Linked DNA regions of Homo sapiens: region 1 is linked to region 2. Evidence: fine-mapped expression QTL. A gene starts in region 2. The other region holds a variant in brackets. All regions are shown on one strand. Distances are between the middles of the regions.

Region 1 (5,309 bases), 140 kb before region 2:
TATTGTGTTTTTTGGGGCTTGGGGAAATTTGTTCACGGACACATTTCAGCAGCAGACCAACGTGGGAGTCAGGTTATGGCAGAGGCTTGGGCGGAACAACAGCAATGGGCAGGATGGCTTCCGCAGAGCCAGCCCCGTTTACTATGCGTGAACTACAAAACAAAATGTTCCCCTCGGTGGTCTATAAGAAAACCTCCAGGCCGGGCGCGGTGGCTCACGCCTGTAATCCCAGCACTTTGGGAGGCCAAGGCGGGTGGATCACGAGGGTCAGGAGATCGAGACCATCCTGGCTAACACGGTGAAACCCCGTCTCTACTAAAAATACAAAAAATTAGCCGGGCGTGGTGGCAGGCGCCTGTAGTCCCAGCTACTCGGGAGGCTGAGGCAGGAGAATGGTGTGAACCCGGGAGGCGGAGCTTGCAGTGAGCCAAGATCATGCCACTGCACTCCAGCCTGGGTGACAGAGCAAGACTCTGTCTCAAAAAAAAAAAAAAAAAAAATTAGCTGGGCGTGGTGGCGGGGGCCTGTAGTCCCAGCTACTCGGGAGGCTAAGGCAGGAGAATGGTGTAAACCTGGTAGGCGGAGCTTGCAGTGAGCCAAGATTGCATCACTGCACTCTAGCCTGGGTGACAGCGAGACTCCGTCTCAAAAAAAAAAAAAGAAAACCGCTTAAGAGCACCTACCCAAGGGACCTAAAAGCATCCAGGACGGTTCTCTGCCTTAGGGGAGTGTCCTCTAACCCCACAGGGACGTGTGGTGTCTACACTGCAAGCCTGCAAATGCTATCCTAGCTATCAATTAGATGGATGTTTTTCAAGCTCTTCTGATCATGTCTCCATGTGACAATGTGACCCAGCAGAAACATAACACGCAGAGTAACCGCATCAAGTGTCACAAATCCATCCTGACCCACGCTCCCTGTGGAACATCAATAACCCCATTCTTTTTTTTTTTTTTTGTAGATGGACTCTGGCTCTGTCACCCAGGCTGGAGTGCAGTGGCACAATCTCAGCTCACCGCAACCTCGGCCTCCCGGGTTCAAGCAATTCTCCTGCCCCGGCCTCCCAAGTAGCTGGAACTACAGGCGCACACCGCCATGCCCAGCTAATTTTCGTATTTTTTGTAGAGATGGGGTTTCACTATGTTGGCCAGGCTAGTCTCAAACTCCTGAGCCGATGATCCGTCCACTTTGGCCTCCCAAAGTGCTGGGATTACAGGCGTGAGCCACTGTGCCCGGCCCCTATTCTTTCTTTTCGGCTGGCCGAGGCCCACTGGATGGATGTCCTGCGCCACCACCGGGTCTGCTGTGTTATCAGCTATATACGCAACACTGAGCGTGAGGAGTGACACTGTGTGGAGACGGCAAGAGGAGTCCCCACAACAGAGGCATGCAAAGGCCAAGAGTGGGCAGGGAGATGCAGAATCCATACCTGCCCAGTGTCACTCGTGACAGGCCTTCCCCACCGCCACAGCAGAGGACTTACTGATGACTACCCCCAAATACGAACAGCGCTGAATGCACCAAGCTGGTTCCAAACACCAGGCATCTGGCAGAGAACAACACAATTCCTACCTGGAGGAGTGGACAGCAGAGTGACAGAAATAGCCAAACATGACACAATGTCACATAGAAAGTGGAAGTGTTATATTAAAAAAAAAAAAAAGTATTCAGGGCCGGACGTGGTGGCTCATGCCTGTAATCCCAACACTTTGGGAGGCCGAGGCAGGTGGATCACCTGAGGTCAGGGGTTCGAGACCAGCCTGACCAACATGGTGAAACCCCATCTCTACTAATAATAAAAAAATTAGGACCAGGCTTGGTGGCTCATGCCTGTAATTCCAACACTTTGGGAGGCCAAGACGAGTGGATAACTTGAGGTCAGGAGTTTGAGACCAGCCTGGCCAACATGGTTAAAACTCATCTCTACTAAAAATACAAAAATTAGCCGGCATGGTGGCAGGCGCCCGTAATCCCAGCTACTCGGTGTGGGGGCTGGGACAGGAGAATCGCTTGAACCCAGGAGGCGGAGGTTGCAGTGAGCTGAGACTGTGCCACTGCACTCAAGCCTGGGTGACAGAGCGAGACTCCGTCTCAAAAAAAAAAAAAAAAAATTAGCCAAGCGTGGTGGTGCACGCCTGTAATCCCAGCTACTCAGGAGGCTGAGGCAGGAAAATTGAAATCGCTTGAACCCGGGAGGCGGAGGTTGGAGTGAGCCAAGATCGCACCATTGCACTCCAGCCTGGGCGACAAGAACAAAACTCCATCTCCCCCCTCCAAAAAAAAAAAAAAAAAGTATTCAGGGTGGGCATGGTGGCTCACGCCTGTAATTCCAGCACTTTGGGAGGTTGAGGCAGGTCGATCACTTGAGGCCAGGAATTTGAGGCCAGCCTGGGCAACACGGTGAAACCTCGTCTCTACGAAAAATACAAAAATTAGCTGGCATGCGGCTGTAGTCCCAGCTACTTGGGAAGCCAAGGTGGGAGGGTCCAGACTGCCATGAGCTATGATTGCACCACTGTACTCCCCGCTGGGTGACAGACCAAGACCTTGTCTCAAAGAGAAAAAAAAAAAAAAAAGACACAATGTCACATAGAGGGTGGAAGTGCTATAAATCTAATCAAGCAGGGTTCGCAGGGTTAACAGATGAGAAGCACTCCTTCTATGGTAGCCTGGGACACCTCAGTGATGAAGATGTCTGAGCAGAGATCTGTAGTGACATGGGCACCATGTGGTTATTTATCTACCACAGAGGAACAGCAAGTGCAAAGGCCCTGGACTGTGCTTGGCATATTCCAAGGCACAGCAAGTCAGCCAGTGTGGCTGGAGCAGGGAAGGTGGGAAAACACACTCTGTTTCTTTTTTTTTTCTTTGAGATGAAGTTTCACTCTTGTTGCCCAGGCTAGAGTGCAATGGTGCGATCTCAGCTCACTGCAACCTCTGCCTCCTGGGTTCAAGTGATTCTCCTGCCTCAGCCTCTCAAGTAGCTGGGATTACAGGCACGCGCCACCACGCCCAGCTAATTTTGTATTTTTAGTAGACTAGGTTTCTCCATGTTGGTCAGGATGGTCTCAAACTCCCGACCTCAGGTGATCCACCCGCCTCAGCCTCCCAAAATGCTGGGATTACAGGCGTGAGCCACC[G/A]TGCCTGGCCCACACTCCGTTTCTCTACACTCTCACACAGCACTTTTGACACCAACTCAGAGAAAACCAGTTTTCTTCTACTATACTCTCATAACCGAGAACAATTCTGTGACCAGATGCGTGGGTCTTTTCCAAGTAATTCTCCAAGTCTCCAAACACCAGCTGGGTGTCCTACAATTTAACTCAATTCAGACTCTATCTCCCACAAGTTAAGGACTTTATCGGCCAGATGCAGTGGGCTCACCTAAGCACAGTGCTTTGGGAGGCCAAAGTGGGAGGACTGCTTGAGGCCAAGAGTTTGAAACCAGCCTAGGAAGTATAGCACCCTGTCTCTACAAAAAATTTAAAAATTAGCTAAGCCTGGCAGTGGTGCACACCTGTAGTCCCAGCTACTCGGGAGCATGACATGAGCCCAGGAGCTGGACACTGCAGTGAGCTATGACTGTATCACTGCACTCCAGCCTGGGTGAGAGTGACACTCTGTCTCTAAAAGAAAAAGAGCTGTCCCATAAGACTGCTCCCACTACAAATGCCATTTGCACATCCCAGGGTCCAGTACTTCTGCCCAGCCACCTATAAATTGGGAATTCCCACAACCCCCTCCTCGATTTGATTGATTTGCTAAAGCAGCGCCCAGAACTAAGGCAGGCACTTCACTTCCCATTAATGGTTTATTATAACGGATACGACTCGGGGTCAACCAGATGGAAGCAATACAGACAGCTTCAATGGCCCCTCCGTACATGCCACCCTCTAAGCACTTGGTCTTTCTGGTAACCAGCCCCATCCTGGGCTATCTAGGAGCCCCATCCTAAATCACCTCATAAGCATAAACTCAGCTGTGATCAAAAGGGGCTCATTATGAATTTTAAAAGACACACCTATCACTCCTATGACATGTGGCGCAAAGACCAAATATATTCCATATCATACCTCAGAGGGCAAGTGGGTGCGGCCACAGGTGGGGCATAGGGGAGAAGTCACAGGCCTTGAGGGCCACAGTAAAGGGGTTCCAGGAGCATCCAGTGCAGTGGGGAGCTGCTAGAATGTTCCAGGCACGGGAGTGGCACGGTCTGATAATGACTTTAATTTCTCTGGACATGCTGATGGAATGGATGTGCAAGTGAGGGCAAGAGATGAGGCAAGGGTGAACACCAGGGTCTCGGCTGGGACGTGCTGTTAGAAACATAAAAAGGGGGCCAGGTGCAGTGGCTCATGCCTGTAATCCCAGCACTTCGGGAGGCTGAGGCAGGTGGATCACCTGAGGTCAGGAGTTTGAGACCAGCCTGACCAACACGGAGAAACCCCGTCTCTACTAAAAATACAAAATTAGCCAGGTGTGGTGGTGCATGCCTGTAATCCCAGCTACTCGGGAGGCTGAGGCAGGAGAATCGCTTGAACCCAGGAGGCGGAGGTTTCAGTGAGCCGAGACCCCGCCATTGCACTCCAGCCTGGGCAACAAGAGACAAACTCTGTCTCAAAAAAAGAAAAAAAAAAGAAAGAAATATAAAAAGGCGCCAGGCGTGGTGGCTCACGCCCATAATCCCAGCACTTTGGGAGGCTGAAGTAGGCAGATCCTTTGAGCCAAGGGGTTCAAGACCAGCCTGGGAGATAACATCAAGACCTCCACTTCTAAGAAAGTAAAACCTAAAACATAAATTTTTAAATAAACATAACAAGGCCCCCCTTCCTCGAGGCTGACCAAGCCCTAGAGCAAGGCTTGGCAAAGACAGGCAGGGCCGGGGTTCAGCCCCTGGTTCTTGAGGTAGAGGGTGGAGGCCAGGGAGATTCTGAGAGGAAAACGGAATTCTGAGTTCAAAGAGGTTAAGCCATGCAGAACAGAATCCCGCCTCAAGTCTCTTTGACTCCAGGGCCTGAGTAACTGATTCAGGCCGAGGATCAAAAGGAATAGGATGAGAACCTTGAAGGTCGAGGAAGGGCAGAGTCAAGAGGAAGGGCAAGTAAAGAGCCACTCCCACAGGCACCCAGGAGATGCCTCCAGGAGGCAGGCAAGGCCTTCAGGTGCCCAGCCAGTCCAGGCTGTGCCAGAATCACATTTGATCATCACAGGGGCAGTTTCAGCTCCCTGGGCACAATGAGACATCCACTATGCCCCTTTACTGGGACTTTCGGAGCAAGATGGGTCGCACACAGCAGACCCTCCCCCT
Region 2 (5,346 bases):
AGGTTGCGGAGAGCCTAGGTCACGCCACTGCACTCCAGCCTGGGTGACAGGGCAAGACTCTGTCTCAAAAAAAAAAAAGAAAAAAAAAGAAAAAGAAATGGGCGATGTGGCACAGCTCAGGTAGAGACCCCGGCTGCATAATAAAAGATTAGCAGATACCAGAAATTCACACCCTATGCAAATGGCACACCTGTTCTAACCAGTTTTTCATCCCCTATGTAAATCAGGCTAAGTCTCCTCACCAGCTCATCTATAAACCCCCCTGTATTTTGCTATGGACCAGCAACCCATTTTTCTGGGACTCCTCTCTGTAGCAGAGAGCTATACTCTCCGTTGCCTATTAAACGTTCGTTCTCAACCTCATTCTTTTGTGTGTCCTGGTCCTTGTTCTTCGTGGCTGTGAGACAACGACCCCGGGTGTTACTCAAGACAACGAGGCCGTTTCAGAATCACTGCTTAATGGGTACAGGGATCTTTACTGAGCCGATGAAAATGTTTTGGAACTACATAGAAGTCACTGCACAACACTGGAATGTACTAAATGCCACTGAATTGTTAATTTTAAAATGGTTATTTTTATTTTCTTTTTGACACGGAGTCCTGCTCTGTCGCCCAGGCTGGAGTGCAGTGGCATCATCTGGGCTCACTGCAAGCTCCGCTTCCCAGGTTCACACCATTCTCCTGCCTCAGCCTCCAGAGTAGCTGGGACTACAGGCACCCGCCACCACGCCTGGCTAATTTTTTGTATTTTTGGTAGAGACGGGGTTTCACTGTGTTAGCCAGGATAGTCTCGATCTCCTGACCTCATGATCCGCCTGCCTTGGCCTCCAAAAGTGTTGGGATTACAGGTGTAAGCCACCACACCCGGCCTTAAAATTGTTAATTTTATGCAATGTGAATTTTACTGTATTTAAAAAAATCAATTTTAGTAATCCCAACACTTTGGGAGGGTGAGGGAGCAGGCAGATGGCTTGAGCCCAGGAGTTTGAAACCAGCCTGGGCAACACAGGGAAACCTCATGTCTACAAAAAATTAGTTAGGCATGGAGGTGTACACCTGTAGTCCCAGCTACTCAGGAGGCTGAGGTGGGAGAATCACTTGAGCCCAGGAGGTAGAGATTGCAGTGAGCCATGATGGCGTCACTGCACCCCAGCCTGGGCAACAGAGCAAGACCCTGTCCTAAAAAAAATCCGGCCGGGTGCAGTGGCTCACGCCTACAATCCCAGCACTTTGGGAGGCCGAGGTGGATGGAACAGAAGGTCAGGATATCGAGACCATCCTGGCTAACATGGTGAAACCCCCTCTCTACTAAAAATACAAAAAATTAGCCAGGTGTGGTGGCACGTGCCTGTAGTCTCAGCTACTCGGAAGGCTGAGGCAGGAGGATCGCTGGAACCCCAGGAGACGGAGGTTGCAGTGAGTCGAGATCGCGCCACTGCACTCTAGCCTGGGCAACAGAGGGAGACTCTGTCTCAAAAAAAAAAAAAAAAAAAAAGGAAAAAAAAATTAAAAAAAAAAAGAAAAAAAAGAAAAGGAGTCACCCGTTCTCCACTGTTACTTCAAATTGTCCAAGCAGTGAGTGTAAATGATAGAAAAAGTTGGAGTGAAAAGGAATACCAAACTGATATTACAAAGAGCTACTTCCCCAAATTCTCCAAATGCAGGAAAGTGCTGACAACAGCCAGCTGTATTTGAGGGATCTTTGTCATCACCTGCCAACCTTTTCCGGGTTTATCTTTGAAGACTAAACATCTCCCTGTACACAGTTTATGTTTAGACGGGAACCAAATAACAGATTATTATTTACTGAGGGCCTGTGATGTCCCACGCACTGCGGAAGCAAGCACTCAACAAGCATTTCACGTATCCTAAAGACAGCCCAGTAGCGTAGGCCTATTATCCCCATTTTGCAGAAGAGGAAACTGAGGCTCAACAGAGGGAATGCCTCAAGTAATGGGTGGGGCAGGAGCTGAACCAGGCAACGTGGCTCCCAGTCCCACACTGTCCTTATCTCTTCCTACCTGGGCTGTCGTTTTTCTGACCCGAGGCTACTGTAATGGCTCTATTTACCTGCTGGCCCTTGAGTCTGAGACCCTTGGGGTGCATGGTGGGGCCACGCCCCTCCACTGTCTATAAGCCAGGAAAGCTGAGCACTCAATATGAACCAAGCCTCATCTCAATTCTCACAGCCGCACTACAGGGTGGTCGTTCCATCACTCCCGACTTACGAGGAAACTGATACGCTGATGCCTCTAAGGCGCAAAAGGCGTCGAACCTGGACCACGCTCACAGAGCAAGCAAAACACGACGCCACAGGTATCTCCGCCCCGCCCCAGCCCTTTTATAGGCGAGCCCTACGGGTCGCGTACAGGGCCACGCCTAGACGCTATTTTTGGGTCCACTCCACCACGTCGGTCCCGCCAAAGGTTGTCACGCGCGGCGCACTCTGGGAAAACCACGTGGAGGTGACTAAAAAGGACCCTGCCGCCTGTAACTTTAGTTGTCTTAGCTACTGCCTACAAAAGATGCGCCATCATGGCACTTATTTTTGTAATTTTCCTCCACCAGCGGCCGAGAAGAGAGCCGAAGCCTTTGAGAAAAATATTCCCAGACGGTTGAGTGTTTCTGGGCACATCAGGCATTCATTCGGGCCGCCTGCCCTCTAGTGGGGGGGTCCTTCACTCCTGGCACCTCTGGTTACGGACAACATACAGAAGCCACTGCCAATGAGCTCCGCCGAGTAGCACCGGGGCAGGGCTAGCGCTTAAAGGAGCCGCGACCCCTTTGCAGACCAGAGGGTGACCCGGATGATGGCGGCCGGCGCGGCCCTAGCCCTGGCCTTGTGGCTACTAATGCCACCAGTGGAGGTGGGAGGGGCGGGGCCCCCGCCAATCCAGGACGGTGAGTTCACGTTCCTGTTGCCGGCGGGGAGGAAGCAGTGTTTCTACCAGTCCGCGCCGGCCAACGCAAGCCTCGAGACCGAATACCAGGTAGAGGGTCGCGGGCTGGGCGGCCAGCAGAGTCAGGGAGAGGGGGCGTGGCCAAGCGGTCGAGGCGAGGCGCGCTTTAGGAGGAAGGGGGAGGAATCCGTGCTTGGGAGCGCGGGGGCGGAGCTAGAAAGAGATGGACAGATGGGGCGGGGACGGTGTGTGGGAGCGGAAGGGGAGGGAGTAATGAAGCAGGCGGGGCTAGAGTAAGAGATCCAGAGGGGGCGGGGCCATCGATAAGTATAGGGAGCCTCTGAGAGGACAGGACTCTGGCTGGTGGGCGTGGCGATAGTGCTGATAGGTCAACTGCGGGGGCGTTGCCCACACAGGCCTTTCTCGGGGGTTAGACTAAGGAAAAAGGCTGGGCCTATCCTCTTTCGGAGGCGGAGCCAACCAGGGGCGTGGTCAGGTAAACGTCCATTAAGTACTTTTGGTAGGTGCGTGGTCAGCTGAAAGTATGGACCCCAAGCTGTCATATCAATGAGGGTGGAGGCAAGGGGCGCAGCCACTGGGACAGGTTGGGGCGGGTGTGGGTGTGCCGCCGTTCAGGTAAGCCCTTGGTGGTCTGTATTGATCAGTGTTGGTTCAGCCGTAGCCCTCTTCGGCAGGCGCCCTTGGCCTACCGCTAGCCCTCCACCCGCTCTTACCTGCCCCCCAGGTGATCGGAGGTGCTGGACTGGACGTGGACTTCACGCTGGAGAGCCCTCAGGGCGTGCTGTTGGTCAGCGAGTCCCGCAAGGCTGATGGGGTACACACGTGAGTTCAGTCTTGATGCCTGCCTGGGTTCAGTTACAGCCCTGCCCTTCCCAGGCGGCCTCAGGTTACCGCCCTGACTGCCCCGCTGAGTCGGCTGGCTGGCCACCCTGGGTCATGTCTGTGTGTCTGTCTGCCCAGGGTGGAGCCAACGGAGGCCGGGGACTACAAGCTGTGCTTTGACAACTCCTTCAGCACCATCTCCGAGAAGCTGGTGTTCTTTGAACTGATCTTTGACAGCCTCCAGGATGACGAGGAGGTCGAAGGATGGGCAGAGGCTGTGGAGCCCGAGGAGATGCTGGATGTTAAAATGGAGGACATCAAGGTGTGTCCAGGCTGCGCTGGGGCCACTCCTTCCAGATCTCTAGGATTCACCTGGGGTGCCCCCCTTGGGCTGACCCAGCCTCCCCTCCGTAGTTGTGCCCTCCAACTGAATTATAGTAAGAGTAGCAGCTCTTAAAATAAGTAGTTCATTTCAGGCCGGGCACGGTGGCTCACGCCTGTAATCCCAGCACTTTGGGAGGCTGAGGCGGGTGGATCACCTGAGGTCAGGAGTTTTGAGACCAGCCTGGCCAACATGGTGAAACCCCGTCTCTACTAAAAATACAAAAATTAGCCGGGTGTGGTGGCGGGCGTCTGTAATCCCAGCTACTCAGGAGGCTGAGGCCAGAGAATGACTTGAACCCAGGAGGTGGAAGTTGAACCTGGGAGGCAGAGGTTGCAGTGAGCCGAGATCGCACCATTGCACTCCAGCCTGGGCAATAAGAGCAAAACTCCGTCTCAAAAAAAAAAAAAAAAAAAAAAGTAGTTCATTTCTAGGTATAAACCCTGGTGTAAAGGTTTAAGGAACTCATATCATAAATAACTCATACCGTAAATCTCCAAACCACCTTGTGAAGCAGACCCTGTGCTCAAGTCATCCCCATTTTACAGGTGGAGAAAGTGAGATACAAGATGGCTGAGCAACTCACGGCCACACAGACCAACTAGCAGAGTTGGTATTGAACCCATGCTGGTTTCAGCAACTATGCTCTTAACCACAAGCAAATATGTTCTGTACATTTATTAGTATTTTAATTAACTACTTATTTATTTATTTTCTAACAGATCTCTCTTGGTCACCCAGGCTGGATTGCAGTGGCACGATCTCAGCTCACTGCAACCTCTGCCTCCCAGGTTCAGCCAATTCTCCTGCCTCAGCCTCCTGAATAGCTGTGCCACCACGCCTGACTGACTAATTTTTGTATTTTTAGTAGAGACAGGGTTTCACCATGTTGGCCAGGCTGGTCTCGAACTCCTGACCTCAGGGGATCTGTCTGCCTTGGCTTCCCAAAGCTCTGGGATTACAGGTGTGAGCTACGGCGAGGCAAGGTCTTGCTGTGTCACTCAGGCTGGAGTGCAGTGGTGTGATCATAGCCCATTGCAGCCTCAAACTCCTGGGCTCAAGCAATCCTGCCACCTCAGTGGGACTACGGGTGTGCACCACCATGCCTAATTTTTTGTTTTCTGTAGAGACGAGGTTTCACCATGTTGGCTAGGGTGGTCTTGAACTCCTGGGTTTAAGTGATCCTCCTGTGTTTGGATTACAGGTGTAATCTTGCTTCAG

Which allele goes with the higher level. Alleles are on the strand shown, and positions count from the first base shown. SD is a standard deviation of normalised expression in the study named.
For the expression in whole blood of the gene that starts at base 2,787 in region 2, allele A in region 1 goes with a lower level than allele G (large effect, 1.6 SD a copy in Lepik 2017).

What was found. PIP is the estimated chance that this variant, and not a neighbour inherited with it, causes the effect.
Region 1: its variant is the best candidate, but not a certain one, in a credible set for the expression of TMED1 in whole blood (Lepik 2017, PIP 0.62).

The regions. Positions count from the first base shown.
Region 1 is chr19:10,968,759-10,974,067 of GRCh38, reverse strand. All of the region lies in intron 1 of SMARCA4 (SWI/SNF related BAF chromatin remodeling complex subunit ATPase 4), which reads right to left. Among named protein-coding and RNA genes, the nearest start is that of SMARCA4, 10 kb to the right of the region's middle. RefSeq lists an enhancer at 730-779. The variant G/A (reference allele first, on the strand shown) is at 3,142.
Region 2 is chr19:10,833,653-10,838,998 of GRCh38, reverse strand. TMED1 (transmembrane p24 trafficking protein 1) reads left to right here and starts at 2,787. Exons shown (of 4, transcript NM_006858.4): 1 at 2,787-2,990; 2 at 3,646-3,743; 3 at 3,882-4,065. The coding sequence starts at 2,808. It also overlaps a transcript of C19orf38 not described here. RefSeq lists enhancers at 2,513-2,612, 2,378-3,014, 3,652-4,289.